3 linked regions of the Homo sapiens genome follow. The protein of the gene in region 1 interacts with the protein of each later gene in a pairwise test. Each region holds a gene or a part of one and is shown in the gene's direction. Other genes may lie near its edges.

The links. The genes of interacting proteins can lie anywhere in the genome.
Region 2: the proteins of FSCN1 (region 1) and MYCBP2 interact in a two-hybrid assay, tested with the Homo sapiens proteins (one large-scale study listed by BioGRID and IntAct).
Region 3: the proteins of FSCN1 (region 1) and USP10 interact in a two-hybrid assay, tested with the Homo sapiens proteins (one large-scale study listed by BioGRID).

What each region holds. Positions count from the first base shown.
Region 1 is NC_000007.14:5,598,327-5,603,658, forward strand, and holds part of FSCN1 (fascin), read left to right. Parts: intron 1-4,930; coding exon 4,931-5,087; intron 5,088-5,169; coding exon 5,170-5,291; intron 5,292-5,332. UniProt on the Homo sapiens protein: Actin-binding protein that contains 2 major actin binding sites. Organizes filamentous actin into parallel bundles. Plays a role in the organization of actin filament bundles and the formation of microspikes, membrane ruffles, and stress fibers.
Region 2 is NC_000013.11:77,317,095-77,321,508, reverse strand, and holds part of MYCBP2 (E3 ubiquitin-protein ligase MYCBP2), read left to right. Parts: intron 1-4,414. UniProt on the Homo sapiens protein: Atypical E3 ubiquitin-protein ligase which specifically mediates ubiquitination of threonine and serine residues on target proteins, instead of ubiquitinating lysine residues.
Region 3 is NC_000016.10:84,758,086-84,762,499, forward strand, and holds part of USP10 (ubiquitin carboxyl-terminal hydrolase 10), read left to right. Parts: intron 1-630; coding exon 631-722; intron 723-1,277; coding exon 1,278-1,387; intron 1,388-1,805; coding exon 1,806-1,861; intron 1,862-2,086; coding exon 2,087-2,190; intron 2,191-4,414. UniProt on the Homo sapiens protein: Hydrolase that can remove conjugated ubiquitin from target proteins such as p53/TP53, RPS2/us5, RPS3/us3, RPS10/eS10, BECN1, SNX3 and CFTR.

The sequences.
Region 1 (5,332 bases):
ATGGCGGCAGTTGTGTGGCCCTGGGCCCAGGAATGGCTGGGAAGCTCCCTTTCTTCTCTGGCTTGGGGGATGAGGTTAGTGTAAATTTCATGGAGTTGCCAGGAGGATTAAGGCCGACGTGCATTCACACGTGGCCCCGTGGCTGCCGCCAGTTAAGCCCTGCGCAGCCATTGGAAGTCTCATTGAGAAGGAGCCTCCCGGCTTCCTGCATTTGTTCCAGGCGGGCTGGTAAGCGCCCTGCTTATTTGCAAGGCTGTGTGAGGACGAGCCCTGTAAACCCTAGGACGAGGCTGTGCTAATGTGGTTTCTGTTCCACTGTCTCCCCTTCTCCTTTTGCCCCTCTTTCTGGGGAACCTGGAGCCCCTGATGCCCTCTGTTTTTTCCTGCTGCTGGGGTGGACCTAGAACCTCTCCCTCCATCCTTTCTGCTGCTGGGGTGGGCCTGCAGGAGGCTGTCCTCTTACCTGGTCCCTAACTTCCCTCCGATCAGCGGGGCTTCAGCGGAGCCCCAGCGCATTGGACAGGTGGTGCTCTGTGGCCGGCACAGGCCAGGGCCCAGGGTGCGGCCCCTGCCTGTAGGTAGACATGCAGGCCCTTCTGAGCAGAATGAGGGGGCGGTGAGGGCAGCTGTGCGGGTGTGGCTGGCCTGACGGCTCCCTGCAGCCCTGCGGCTTCTGTGCAGTGGGGGTGGGGCGGGCCAGACCTTTGCAGGGCCTCTTGGCTGGTGGAGGGCTGAGTGAGCAGAGGCCCCAGCCCTCGTGTTCCCTGGGGTGTGGCCTTAGGATGGTCCCGGCACCCTGGGACCCAGCCCCTGCTCACCTTATCCTCCTCCCGTGCTTGGCTGGGGTGTGGTGGCTGAGCCAGCCCACCCAGTGCGGTGGATGCTCGTCGGAGGGCAGAGGGTGGGCTACCGGCTTAAGGGGCCCCAGGGAACCTGGGGGGTGGAGCCCAAGGGGTTCCAAGAAGGGGCGGGGCCAGGAACCCATAGACAAGAGGGTGGGGCAGGGAAAGGGCGTGGCAAGAGGGCCACCCACCTCCGGTCCAGAGAGCCAGCCAGACCCTTACTTTCTCTTGCTGTGTGACCTTAGGCAAGGACATGCCACCACCGGCCTTAGTCTCCCTCTTTGTGAAGTAGGATGAAGATCCCCACCTGTGGAGCAGATGTGGGGCTGCATGGTTGGGTCAGGATGGAACAGGATGGGGAGGCCGGGCGTGGTGGCTTACCCCTGTAATCCCAGCACTTTGGGAGGCAAAGGTGGGAGGACTGCTTGAGTCCTGGAGTTTGGGCAACATAGCGAGACCACCCCCATCTCTACAAAATAATGTTAAAGTTAGCCAGGTGTAGTGGTGAGTGCCTGTGGTCCCACCTACTGGGGAGACTGAGGCAAGAGGATCCTTTGAGCCCAGGAGGTGGAGGCTGTAGAGAGCCATGCTTGGGCCACTTGCACTCCAGCCTGGGCAACAGAGCAAGACCCTATCTCTAAAAAAAAAATGGAATTGAGGATGTGTCCTCTGGGTGTGGGCTCTACCACCCACCAGCCTCCCTCTCCTGTGGGTGCTGCCTGCCACCCACCGCTGAGGTCCCTGCAGCATCAAGGTGCCCAAACGAAGACACTCTCCAGCTCTGAGCCAGGCACCCATACAGAGCCCGGCAGACGCCTCTGCTGCTGCAGTTCTTAGAATCCAGAGCGCGTGGGGAATGTGAATTTGTGCTGCTGGAGCCAAACATCCCACCTCCAGGTTTTAGCTGGAGGAATCCATGTGGATATGCAAAGCAATGTAGTTATAATGAATAGCAATTGTGGGCTGGGCGCAGTGGCTCATACCTGTAATCCCAGCACTTTGGGAGGCTGAGGTGGGTGGATCACCTGAGGTCAGGAGTTTGAGACCGGCCTGGCCAACATAATGAAACTCCGTCTCTACTAAAAATACAAAAAAATTAGCCGGGCATAGTGGCGGGTGCCTGTAATCCCAGCTACTCAGGAGGCTGAGGCAGGAGAATCACTTGAACCCAGGAGGCAGAGGTTTCAGTGAGGCGAGATCGTGCCATTGCACTCCAGCCCGGGAGACACAGCGAGACTCTCTTTCTCAAAAAAAGAATAGCAGCTTTGCTATAGCTTAGGGGAGCAAAACCCGAAAGCCACCTTAAGTTTCCCGAAGATAGAGATCCCTGGGGTCCTATTCTGAGACAGAGTCTTGCTCTGTCGCCCAGGCTGGAGTGCAGTGGCGGATCTCAGCTCACTGCAGCCTCCGCCTCCTGGGTTCAAGCAATTCTCCTGCGTCAGCCTCCCGAGCAGCTGGGATTACAGGCGCCCGGCACCACCCCCAGCTAATTTTTTTTTTTTTGAGACAGAGTCTCGCATTGTCGCCCAGGCTGGAGTGCAGTGGCGCGATCTTGGCTCACTGCAAGCTCCACCTCCCGGGTTCACGCCATTCTCCTGCCTCAGCCTCCCGAGTAGCAGGGACTACAGGCGCCCGCCACCGTGCCCGGCTAATTTTTTTTTTTTGTATTATTAATAGAGACGGGTTTCACCGTGTTAGGATGATCTCGATCTCCTGACCTCGTGATCCGCCTGCCTCGGCCTCCCAAAGTGCTGGGATTACAGGCATGAGCCACCTTGCCTGGTCCTTTTTTTTGTATTTTTAGTAGAGATGAGGTTTCACCATGTTGGCCAGGCTGGTCTCAAACTCCTGACCTCATGATCCGCCCGCCTCGGCCTCCCAAAGTGCTGGGATTACAGGTGTGGGCCACTGTGCCCGGCCAGTCCCATTCTACTTTTTAGGGACATGGAATCATGTAAAGATGCCATACAGAAAACAGTATGCAAATCCAGAGACAGAGGACATCTGTGCATGTTTCTTTCTTTCTTCCTTTTTTTTTTTTTTTTTTTTTTTGAGATGGATTCTTGCTCTGTCGCCCAGGCTGGAGTGCAGTGGTGCAATCTCAGCTCACTGCAACCTCTGCCTCCCAGGTTCAAGTGATTCTCCTGCCTCAGACTTCCAAGTAGCTGGGATTACAGGCATGCCCCACCATGCCCAGCTAATTTTTGTATTTTTAGTAGAGGCGGGGTTTCACCATGTTGGCAAGGCTGGTCTTGAACTCATGACCTCAGGTGATCCACCCGCCTCAGCTTCCCAAAGTGCTGGGATTACAGGCGTGAGCCGCCGTGGCAACCCGCATGCTTCTTATGTATAAGAAAAAAACAGCTAGAAAGTTGTGGGTTCACTGGCTGGGCACATGGTGGCTTGTGTCTGTAACCTCAGCACTTTGGGAGGCTGAGTTAGGAGGATCATGTGAGGCCGGGAGTTCAAGACCATCCTAGGCAACATAGCCAGACCCTGTCTGTACCAAATAGAAAAAAAAATTAACTTGATGTGGTGGTGTGTGCCTGTAGTCTCAGCTATTTGGGAGGCTGAGGTGGGAGGATCACTTGAGCCCAGGAAGTCGAGGCTACAGTGAGCTATGATTGTGCCACTGCACTCCAACCTGGGCAACAGAGCAAGACCCTGAATCAAAAAGAAAGAGATGTATTTGCCAACACAGGGGTGTTCTGCAGTGGGGTGGGAAGGGGACGTGTAGGACTTCATAGTTTCCTTTTTTTTGTTTTAGAGACAGGGCTTAAAAAAAAATTTTTTTTTTTTTTTTGAGGCGGAATTTCATTCTTGTTGCCCAGGCTGGAGTGATCTCGGCTCACTGCCATCTCCGCCTCCCAGGTTGAAGTGATTCTCCTGCCTCAGCCTCAGGCAATTTTGTATTTTTAGTAGAGACGGGGTGACTCCATGTTGGTCAGGCTGGTCTCAAACTCCCGACCTCGGGTGATCTGCCTGCCTTGGCCTCCCAAACTGCTGGGATTACAGGTGTGAGCCACTGTGCCTGGCCCCTTTTTTTTTTTTTTAAGTAGGGTCTTGCTAAGTTGTCCAGGCTGGTCTTGAACTCCTGGTCTCAAATGATCCTCCTGACTTGGCCTCCCAAAAGGCTGGGATTGCAGGAGATATGAGCCACCGCACCCGGCCCTTTTATAAGTTTTCTAAAGGAAAGGAACATGTACCATCGTGTTTTATTTTAATTTTTACATAGAAGCAGGAACAATAGCATGAACCCCCAGACACGGCCCCCCAAGATGCGCTGTTCCGCTGTGCTGCAGCCCCATTTGTCCTTTTCTATACCATTTTTGGTTGTATTTGAAGCAAATCCCTGACATCAGGGCATTTCATCCCAAAATACTTCCATCTGTGTTTCTAAAAAAACGAGGCCATTTTCTTATGTAACCACAACGTGATCAACAGTAATCAATGCTTAACATCTAATTCTGGGCCACGTTAAGACCCTCCTGATTGGCTCAAGAATGTCTTTTGTGCAGTTGGTTTCTTGATTCTTTTTGTTTTTTTTGAGACAGGGTCTCACTGTGTCACCCAGGCTGGAGTGCAGTGGTGCAATCACGGCTCACTGCAGCCTCAGCCTCCTGCCTCAGCGATCCTCCTGCCTCAGCCTCCCAAGTAGCTGGGACCACAGGTTTGCACCACCACTCCCAGCTAATTAAAAAAAGTAATTTGTAGAGACGGGGGTGGGGTGGGGGTCTTGCTATGTTGCCCAGGCTGGTCTCAAACTCCTAGACTCAAACAATCCTCCTGCCTTGGCCTCCCAAAGTGTTGCGATCACAGGCATGAGCCCCTGTCCCTGGCCCCTATTATTTCTCTAACTGGGGAAAGTCATGTGGGAACAGATGTAGCTTGCCTTGGCCTCTGACCGGCCCTGCCTGCGTTCCTGGGTGCTCTCTGCTGCTTCTCATGTGTGCCACTGTGGGGACTCGGCCGCCCACCCCACCCCGTGGTGTTACCTTGCGTGTGTAGTTCTGTGAGCTCAGGGCTATGGTCTGCCAGAACTAGGGGGCGTGGGGCCCCAGTACCAGCCCAAGGCCTCCTCTCTGCAGGTATGGACCTGTCTGCCAATCAGGACGAGGAGACCGACCAGGAGACCTTCCAGCTGGAGATCGACCGCGACACCAAAAAGTGTGCCTTCCGTACCCACACGGGCAAGTACTGGACGCTGACGGCCACCGGGGGCGTGCAGTCCACCGCCTCCAGCAAGTGAGTGCCTCGCTCCCACCTGTCACCGCCCCCACCACCTTGCCTGGGCTACCCCGCCTGACCCTGTCCCGCCATCCCCCAGGAATGCCAGCTGCTACTTTGACATCGAGTGGCGTGACCGGCGCATCACACTGAGGGCGTCCAATGGCAAGTTTGTGACCTCCAAGAAGAATGGGCAGCTGGCCGCCTCGGTGGAGACAGCAGGTAACACTAAAGCCCCAGTTCCCTGGAGCCGTCCTGGAGTC
Region 2 (4,414 bases), on another chromosome or scaffold:
TGATCACCCTTGATGGTTTTAAGCTATGAAGAGACGTTATTTATTGTAGGAATATGTCAGGAAGTAATGCGGGATTGAATCTGTATGTGTACATCTGTATTTGTGCATAGGTAGTAATTTTCTTCATGTAGCTGTTATATCAGTGGAATCCTGTATAGTGTATAAACACAAGTTAAGGCAAAAACTGCTCTATTGGTATACTGGTAGGTAGAAATGTGAAATGAATTAGTTTCCTAACTCAAGAGAAGAAAAAAATCTTGCCTCTGGGCTTAAAAGGAAAATAAAAATGTCAATCTAAAAATACTTTTGTCCTTTAATATATTTGTTTAAAAAATCAACAGAATAGTCTCACTTTTTTCTCAAAAACCAGATTAAACATTTAGGTTTTCTGAGGAGGGGTTAGGTTAATTGAGGTTTAATTTATATACAATAAAATTCATCCTCTTTAAATGTTCATTTGAAGAGTCCTGAAACTATCACCACAGTCAAGTATAGACTGTTTCCATCACTTCATATAAAAAGTTCTGTCAGGCCCTCCTACCCCTGGTTACTGACCGCTGCAAATCAGTTTTCTGTCACTAATATTTTACCTTTTCTAGAATGTCATATAAATCTAGCTCCTTAAGGGCAGGGCCCCCAGGTATTGTTCATCTTTCTGTCTTGTATCTGTATTTCCTGTAAGTGGAAGCTAGACCTTAAGGGTTTATTAGGTGTTCATTAGAAAATTTTTTAGCAAGAATATTGTATATGGCGCTGGGTACTGCATGTTGCATCCCATCCAGAGGTTGTGAGGTTGTCTCACTATTTAATATGTTAAATCTGATTACTTGGGTAAGACGGTACCTACTAGATTTCATCTCTGTAAATGTATGCTTTTTCCATTTGTAAAGAACAAGTAATCACAGGGTAAAAATTTGAGCACATTGTGAATGCCTTTTACCTAATGCTTTTAGCATTCTTTGATAATCCTTGTCTGAGTCAATAATTTCATTAGGGGTTGCAAAATGATGAATTAAAAAATAATTCTGTTATTTCTTCTATGTTTATTAGCTGGTACTCTTCTGCAAAGAAGAGTTGGCCTTCACTGACTGTCAGTGAAATGTAGTTTCTCCTAATCCAGCAGCATAAATGCTTAATTCTCTTCCCTCATTAGCCAAATTGGTGTAATAGTCCAGTGGTGGTGTGGCAGGTGCTGTGGTTAGGCTTTCAGATCCCGCTTTCAGGCACATGTTCCCCTAGCTCTTGGCAATATTGGCAGCTAAAACTGATTGCAGCTGAGTCCCACTCCACGCATTGCCCTGAGCCAAGAGTTGCCTCCCCCAGAGTCATGCCTCCTCTTCAGGGGCAGTTTACATCTAATATCTATACAGTGTAGGGATATAAATGCCTAGCGCTTTTGCTATAAGACAAGCCAACCTTGAAGTCTATCCCAACACCAGAGAGCTCTCCCATGGGTCTGGCTGAGGGCTTCCTGGGACTGCATTGCAGATCAACTCCTTCCTCTGTTCAGTCTTACGTCTTTCACTGCCCCACAGTTGTTGGTTCGGAGGGCACTCCGCAATAAACTTCCGGTGTGCACATCTGCATTTGAGAGTCTGTTTCCTGGGAACCCTCCTACCCAAAGCAGTTGGTGCCAGGAGTGGTCTCAGAAAGTAGACTTTACAGTGAGGTTTTGAAGCTGGATTATTGGCTGGCTGGCTGGCAATGAGAATCGATTCTGGTGCTAGATGGAGCACTAATACTGATAACGCTTGGCATGCACTGTAGCTATGCAACTTAAAACTTTCACTGGTGGTGAGTTGGAATGCTATTCCTGTTGAAGGGAATGCACTGGTGAGTGCACTAGGCTTTTGAGAAGTTCAGAGAAATTAATTATGAGGACAATCATCAGATGGCTTTTGGTAAATAACATTGATAGATTGGAGAAAGATGATGCAAGGTGGAAGATAATTGGGGGCAAAATGTAAAAGGAAATTTATTTAGCATCATGTAAAGAAACACATATACAGTAAGAGGAAAAATCTAAGGCTTCAACCCAAAACTTAATTTTAAGGGTAGCAGAGCACCAAGGTAGGTAGAATTCTCTCTCAGCTATGCTAAGGTCAGTGTTCTGGTTGGGCAGGAATCCTGACCCTTAGGATGGGGCATCTGAGTGCACTTGAAAACCCTGAAACCCCAAATTCCTCTTAACCCTCTGGGCCTGCAGAAGTGGCCTTCTTCTACTAGCTAGAGGGGTTGCTTGCAGACTGTGCTGTCCCTCTTACCCCCAGCTCCTCCTCTCTCGCCTACTGACTATCACCAAACCAACAACTAGGGTTAAGTCACAAGAACACCTAGTTCGGGGTGCTGGATCTGCGAAGGGAGGAAGGGACTGTACACACAAACACACACACACACACGTTCCCAAACTGCACCAAGGCACCCCAAAGCACCACCACAGACACAAAAGAATACCATGGGATATTTCAGAATTTTAAAGGAAACACAGCAATATCTGTCACAAATTACTAGCTTGAGGTAGTTCACGGTTTTGACATTAGCTCATGCCACATTTCTTTTGATGATGTCATATTTTTGCAGGGTTGGATTTTTACTAGTTGTGATACAGATCAAGCACTGTGCAAAAATCAGTGTGGAACAGGAAAGGAGGGTGGCATGTTCAGTCTGATTCCAAGTTTGAGAAGTTGTTCTGTGTCTAACAGGCACACATGTCATATTATCAAGTAATTGAAGTTTTTGTTTGTTTGTTTGTTTTGAGGCAGAGTCTCGCTCTGTCACCCAGGCCAGAGTGCAGTGGTGCGATCTCGGCTCACTGCAACCTCCGCCTGCCAGGTTCAAGTGATTCTTCTGCCTCAGCCTCCTGAGTAGTTGGGATTACAGGCGTGTCCCACCACACTCGGCTGATTTTTGTATTTTTACTAGAGGTGGGGTTTCACCATATTGGTCAGGCTGGTCTCGAACTCCTCACCTCGTGATCCGCCTGCCTCGTTCTCCCAAAGTGCTGGGATTACAGGCGTGAGCCACTGCGCCTGGCCCAGTATTTGTAGTTTTTAAGAAGGAAATAAAAATATTTTTCTTCCAATTTATGTGTTATTTTTTCAAATGTCTACTCATTTGTTAGGACATGAATTCTTGTTATTTGGATCTAACTACTTAATAAACACTACTGTTTGGTATTTCTTTTGGCCTATGAGTGCATGGAAAAATTACCGATGATGGCTGTGCATGGGCCCAATAAAAGGGTTTTCATTCACCAGTGCTGATCTAGCAACTGCTGCTGCTGAATATCCAGCCTGACAGCAGCAGAGATCAATCATCCTTCAAGCAGGCCAACCAGTCCTTATACAGTGGAAAGGACCATGATTCATTTTGATTGGATTTGAGACATATTCTGGGTCTGAATTTGTCTTTCCAGCAGGGTCTCACCCAGGACTACTGTTTGAGGGCTTGCAGGATGTTTGATCCTCTACTACAGGGATCATTTCAGAATAAGGGACCCACTGTTATGTTATGTTATGTTATGTTATGTTATGTTATGTTATGTTATGTTATGTTATGTTATGTTATGTTTTGAGACGGAGTCTTGCTCTGTTGCCCAAGCTGGAGTGCAATGGCGTGATCTCAGCTGACTGCAACCTCCGCCTCCCGGGTTCAAGCAGTTCTCCTACCTCAGCCTCCTGAGTTGCTGGGACTACAGGTGCACATCACCACGCCCAGCTAATTTTTGTGTTTTTAGTAGAGACGGGGTTTCACCATGTGGACCAGGATGGTCTCGAACTCCTGACCTCGTGATCCGGCCACGTCAGCCTCCCAAAGTGCTGGGATTACAGGCGTGAGCCACCGCGCCCGGCCGGGACCCACTTTTATAGAATAGGAGAATCATTTGTCCCATCTTGCACCACACCGTCCAGAAGCTGATGACTTGATAGAGCAGTAAAACAGTCCTTTGATGGCACAGCTGATGATGAGATCCTGCAGCTTGGGCATGATGCCCTGCAAGGGTGAGGCGCCCATTCTCCAGTGTTCCCAGTAGGAAGATCACATGAAATTAGGAGTGGCTCCGCATAGCATCACTCTGTGAATCACCTGGGCAGTTTCTGCTTCCCATCTCCATAGCTCTGATGGCAAGGGGTTAAAAGATCCTGGTTCTCAGAAGAGAAACATTTCCAACAGAGGGCGCTATGAGAATCCTGTTATACTTTAAAGTACAGCTGCCACTAGGATTTGGGGCTCCTTTTCTAAATAAAGAAGTCACCAGGCTGGGCACGATGGCTCACGCCTGTAATCCCAGCACTTTGGGAGGCCGAGATGAGTGGATCACGTGAAGTCAGGAGTTCGAAACCAGCTCAGCCAACATGGTGAGACCCTGTTTGTACTACAAATACAAAACAATTAGCCGGGCATGTTGGCGCGT
Region 3 (4,414 bases), on another chromosome or scaffold:
CTGAGGCTGAGCAGCGTGTTTGTAAATGGAATAAGGGAATTACAGTTTATAAAACAGTTGCTAAATTGGATTTCTAGTGGACGGTTTAATTTGTAGGAGACCGCTGTCTCTGAAAGGAGTATTTTTACTCACTGAACAGCCATTGAACACACACAGTGATGTGTAGGGTCAGCATTAGATGCTGGGGATGCAGAGAGGAATGAGACGTGGGTTCTGCAAGATATCTTTCTATCTAGTGTCTGAGGCGCCTTGCTGCTGATGAGACACACCTGGCTAATGGTGTTTAAGGAAGAAAGGCTGTATCTCTCAAATCTATTCTCTAATAATGATACTGTGTTAACATTTTTTTGTTTCTCATTAAAATAGGTAGTTCTTGTGTTCCCTAATTCTGTTCCCCCCAGGAAGATTAAATGTTGCTATTTGAGGGAAAAGATTAGTTTCAAAAATGTTCTAATTGAATAATGTACTTGATGTTGAACTGAATGAAGCCTTAACAGTATGCATTTTCTTTGGCTGTGTGTTTTACTGAAGGGATTTTAAATGCTGTCCCAGAGTAGAGCATGTGAAATGATTTGAATGTTCTTCACTAGATGTCATCAATTTCTGAAATATGCTTCTTCACTCTTTCAGAGTTGCTGGAGAATGTAACCCTAATCCATAAACCAGTGTCGTTGCAACCCCGTGGGCTGATCAATAAAGGGAACTGGTGCTACATTAATGCTGTATCCTTCCTGGACGCCGTCCGCAAGGCCAGCTTGTTGCAGCTGTCCCTCCTTTGGGTGCATGTGACTTAGCTCAGCTTCCGTGGGCCATCTAGCTCTCCATTTGAATCCCTAAGTCTGGTTTATTACTTGGTCTGCCTACCTTGCTTATAAACAGGATTATTCCTGACCCCAGTCCATCTCCCTCTAAAAGAGAGGATATGTTGGCACGTGAATGAGGGCTGCAGACAAGCTGGCTCTCATTAGAATAGTCACAAATAATAGGGCAGAGCAACCACTTACAACTGGAAATTTGGTTTTAACTGATTGAACTGTCTTGGTTAGGTCAAGTTCTTGAATACAAACGACTGACTGCTTCGTAGATCCTTATATGGACATCACAGGACACTTACCCTAGTAACTATTTGGTTTATTCCTTTTCGTGGTGACATATCTAAGTAGTTCAACGTCCTTAGCTTCCTTGTGTTTTTATAAACATTCTTGTGCTTCATGTGCCTTCAGGAAATGTGGTGTGTCTGTTCATTTCCTTTACGCTTCCTTACTGCCACTACATAGACACTGCAGGCATTGGTTGCTTGCCCGCCGATGTACCACCTGATGAAGTTCATTCCTCTGTATTCCAAAGTGCAAAGGCCTTGTACGTCAACACCCATGATAGACAGCTTGTAAGTAAGGTGGTGAAAGATGTGTTAAGTGGTGGGGTTTTTCCCGTCTGATAATTAGAATTGAAATAGTTTAGTAAAGCTCTTGATTTCCTGCAAATGAGTCCTATAATTCTGTCTTTTTTTAAAAATAGACTGTTGGCGATTTTATATGGAAGTTAACCAGAAATGGAATTGGAGCATTGATGATCTGTGTTCTTTAGATTCAGTAGAAAATATTTTAGCGTTTACCAGCATATATCACTTGAAATAGACCAAAAATGCATATAGAAGAGACTTGAGTTCACTAGCTGTTACAGCATTGGTTACCTAAAATCTACTATACTCGTATAGCTGATATTCTACTTAGCCATCAAAGCTCTTTAGTAAAAGTATATATTGTTTAAAACTGCACTATTTAACATTTTTTCCCCATGTTTAGTGTTCGGCTAATGAATGAGTTCACTAATATGCCAGTACCTCCAAAACCCCGACAAGGTTAGTAAAAATGAGTTTTGTTGATGCTATTACATATTGGGAGTTATGGAGACAGATGACTTAAATTTGGTAAATTCAGTCTTGTTGGGAAGATAGTGTCTTTACACCTATGCCATTCTCAACATTCAGCCAGGTGGGAGGTGGGGGAGTTTTGATGATGTTGCTTTTTTCATCATTTATGAGTTCATTGTAGTTAGGAAAACCTGTGTCCTCTTTCCATTGCAGCTCTTGGAGATAAAATCGTGAGGGATATTCGCCCTGGAGCTGCCTTTGAGCCCACATATATTTACAGACTCCTGACAGTTAACAAGTCAAGCCTGTCTGAAAAGGTTTGAGACTTCTCTGTTGTCACTAGTATCAAGTGTTGCCTTTTGTTCCAGTGTTTGTGTGGTAACTGTTGCTTATTGATATTTGCCCTCTGTCTCCAGCGCTATAAGTAGATGTAGGTTTATAAGAGTCCATTGCTTGGATGATATGGTGCACCAAGCACTGCTCTCAGTACTTTACATATATTAACTTAGTTGACTCTGAATAAAGTATGATTATGGTCTCCTTGTTACGGTTAAGAGAAGTGAAGCCACTGTCTGAGGTCAGGTAGCTAATGTACATGGCAGAACCCAGCTTTCAAGTCAGTTCTCTTAACCACTGCACTATATGCCACTGGGGTAGAATGGAGTGCACTGGGCCTGGAATGATGGCAGTATTCAGAAGAGCTTATGTCTTCATCATACTTACAGGCTTTAGTAGCTATTTGATGTACTTGATTCCTTTACCTAATTTTTTTTTAATCACATACTTTGTTACTAAAGGCATGAGACCAAGGGGCCAGGGAGCCCTTATAAAAGGCCCTGGGGCTGTTGAGAGTGACTTGGGCCGCCCTTAGCACCGTTAACTGGAGCATTTCTTTCCTCCCAGATTGAGTTTGTGATGAATCAGTACAAGCAGTTGAAATGATGCTTAGGGAAATGTATTCAGAGAGAAAAATAGTTGAGAAAATGCCATTTAAGTCAAGTTTACTTGAAGCTTCATTGCTTTGAAGAAGAGTGAATGTCGAGGGCATCGTTGCAGGATACCACCAGGGGTAGCATAGGGTCTTAAGCTTTTTAAATGCTTATAATGCAGCTTTTGGTATTGGCTTGGAATTTGCACTTCCCAAGTAATGGGAACATGGTGTTAGGGATGCAGAAATGGAATGAAGTGCGCCCTCTGCCCTCAGTGAGGGAATGAGTTAATGAATAGTCAACAAGAGAAGCACAAAGATACAGAGATGCCTTAGAACCCAGAGGGGCCCACCTAGCACAGGTGGAGGCAAAATAAAGTGGGTGCTCAGGAACCCCTCTTGGATCGTGCACAGAGATAATGCTATGAACAAAAGCATCTTCTAAAGGTTACATTAATAGGGGATGTGTTGGGCTCCCCAAGACCACCCTGAGGTTGGGTGATTCACTGGAAGAACTCAGAAAATGCAGAAGCTGGTATACCCGTGGCTATGGTTGCTGACAGCAAAAGCATGCGGAGCAGAGTCAGGAAGGGAAAGGACAGGTGAGGCAGGGCCTAAAGGAAACTTCCAGACTCCTCTCCCAGTGGGGCCACAAGGCTACGCGTAACTACTCCAGCACCAGACTGTGACCACACGTGAAATGCTGCCAACCAGGGAAGGTCATTACAGACTCCGTGTCCAGAGTTTTTACTGAGGGCTGGTCCCATAGGTACCATCTGCCTGGCTTGAACCAAAAGTCCAAACTCCCAAAACAAAAGCAAAGTGTTCAGCAGAAAGCACATTGCTTGCGCAAACGGTTTAGGCAGAATCCCGTATCAGTTATTGGACCGATGGGAACCTTTCTGAAATCCAAATTCCCAGACACCAGCCAAGGGGCAACCTTGCAAGCAGGCCTTTCCAAGGAGAGCCACCCAGGCCTGCTATGAAAAGTCTTCAGCACACTTTGGCTGTGCCAGTTTTTGCCCTTTTCTGCACACGTGCAGAGCATGCACTCACGTGAACAGCTGCTGTCCACGTCTACTATCTGGAGAGGGCAAGTAAACTTTGCAGTTTACCTAGATGCTTCAAACAGAACAATTTGCAGGGCCTTGGAATAGGCAGTTGTGCTGTGAAGAATGAAATATGAACTGATGATAAGTAACAGAATCAAACACTCGTGATGTGGGATTATTAAACTCTTGGGTGACTCGTCTGTGAATGATTTTGCTGATGTATGTGTAACACAGCTAACGCTCTAAATCAGTGGAGTTTTTCCACATGTAGTTTGAGTTCTTTCCCATGTAGTTGTCCATCATCAAAGACAGACAGAAGCAGACATAGGGCTGCTTAGCTCATTGCTCGAGTGGTGACCCTTGCAGTTGAACAGTGAACTGGCCCTAGACATCTAGTTCTTCGTCTTCTATTTTGTTTACCCAAGACAGAAACTTTTTTTTAAATAACTTTTTTGTGATAAAGGTAATGTGGCCAGGTGTGGTGGCTCATGCCTGTAATCCCAGCACTTTGGGAAGCCAAGGCAGGCAGGTCACCTGAGGTCAGGAGTTTGAGACCAGCCT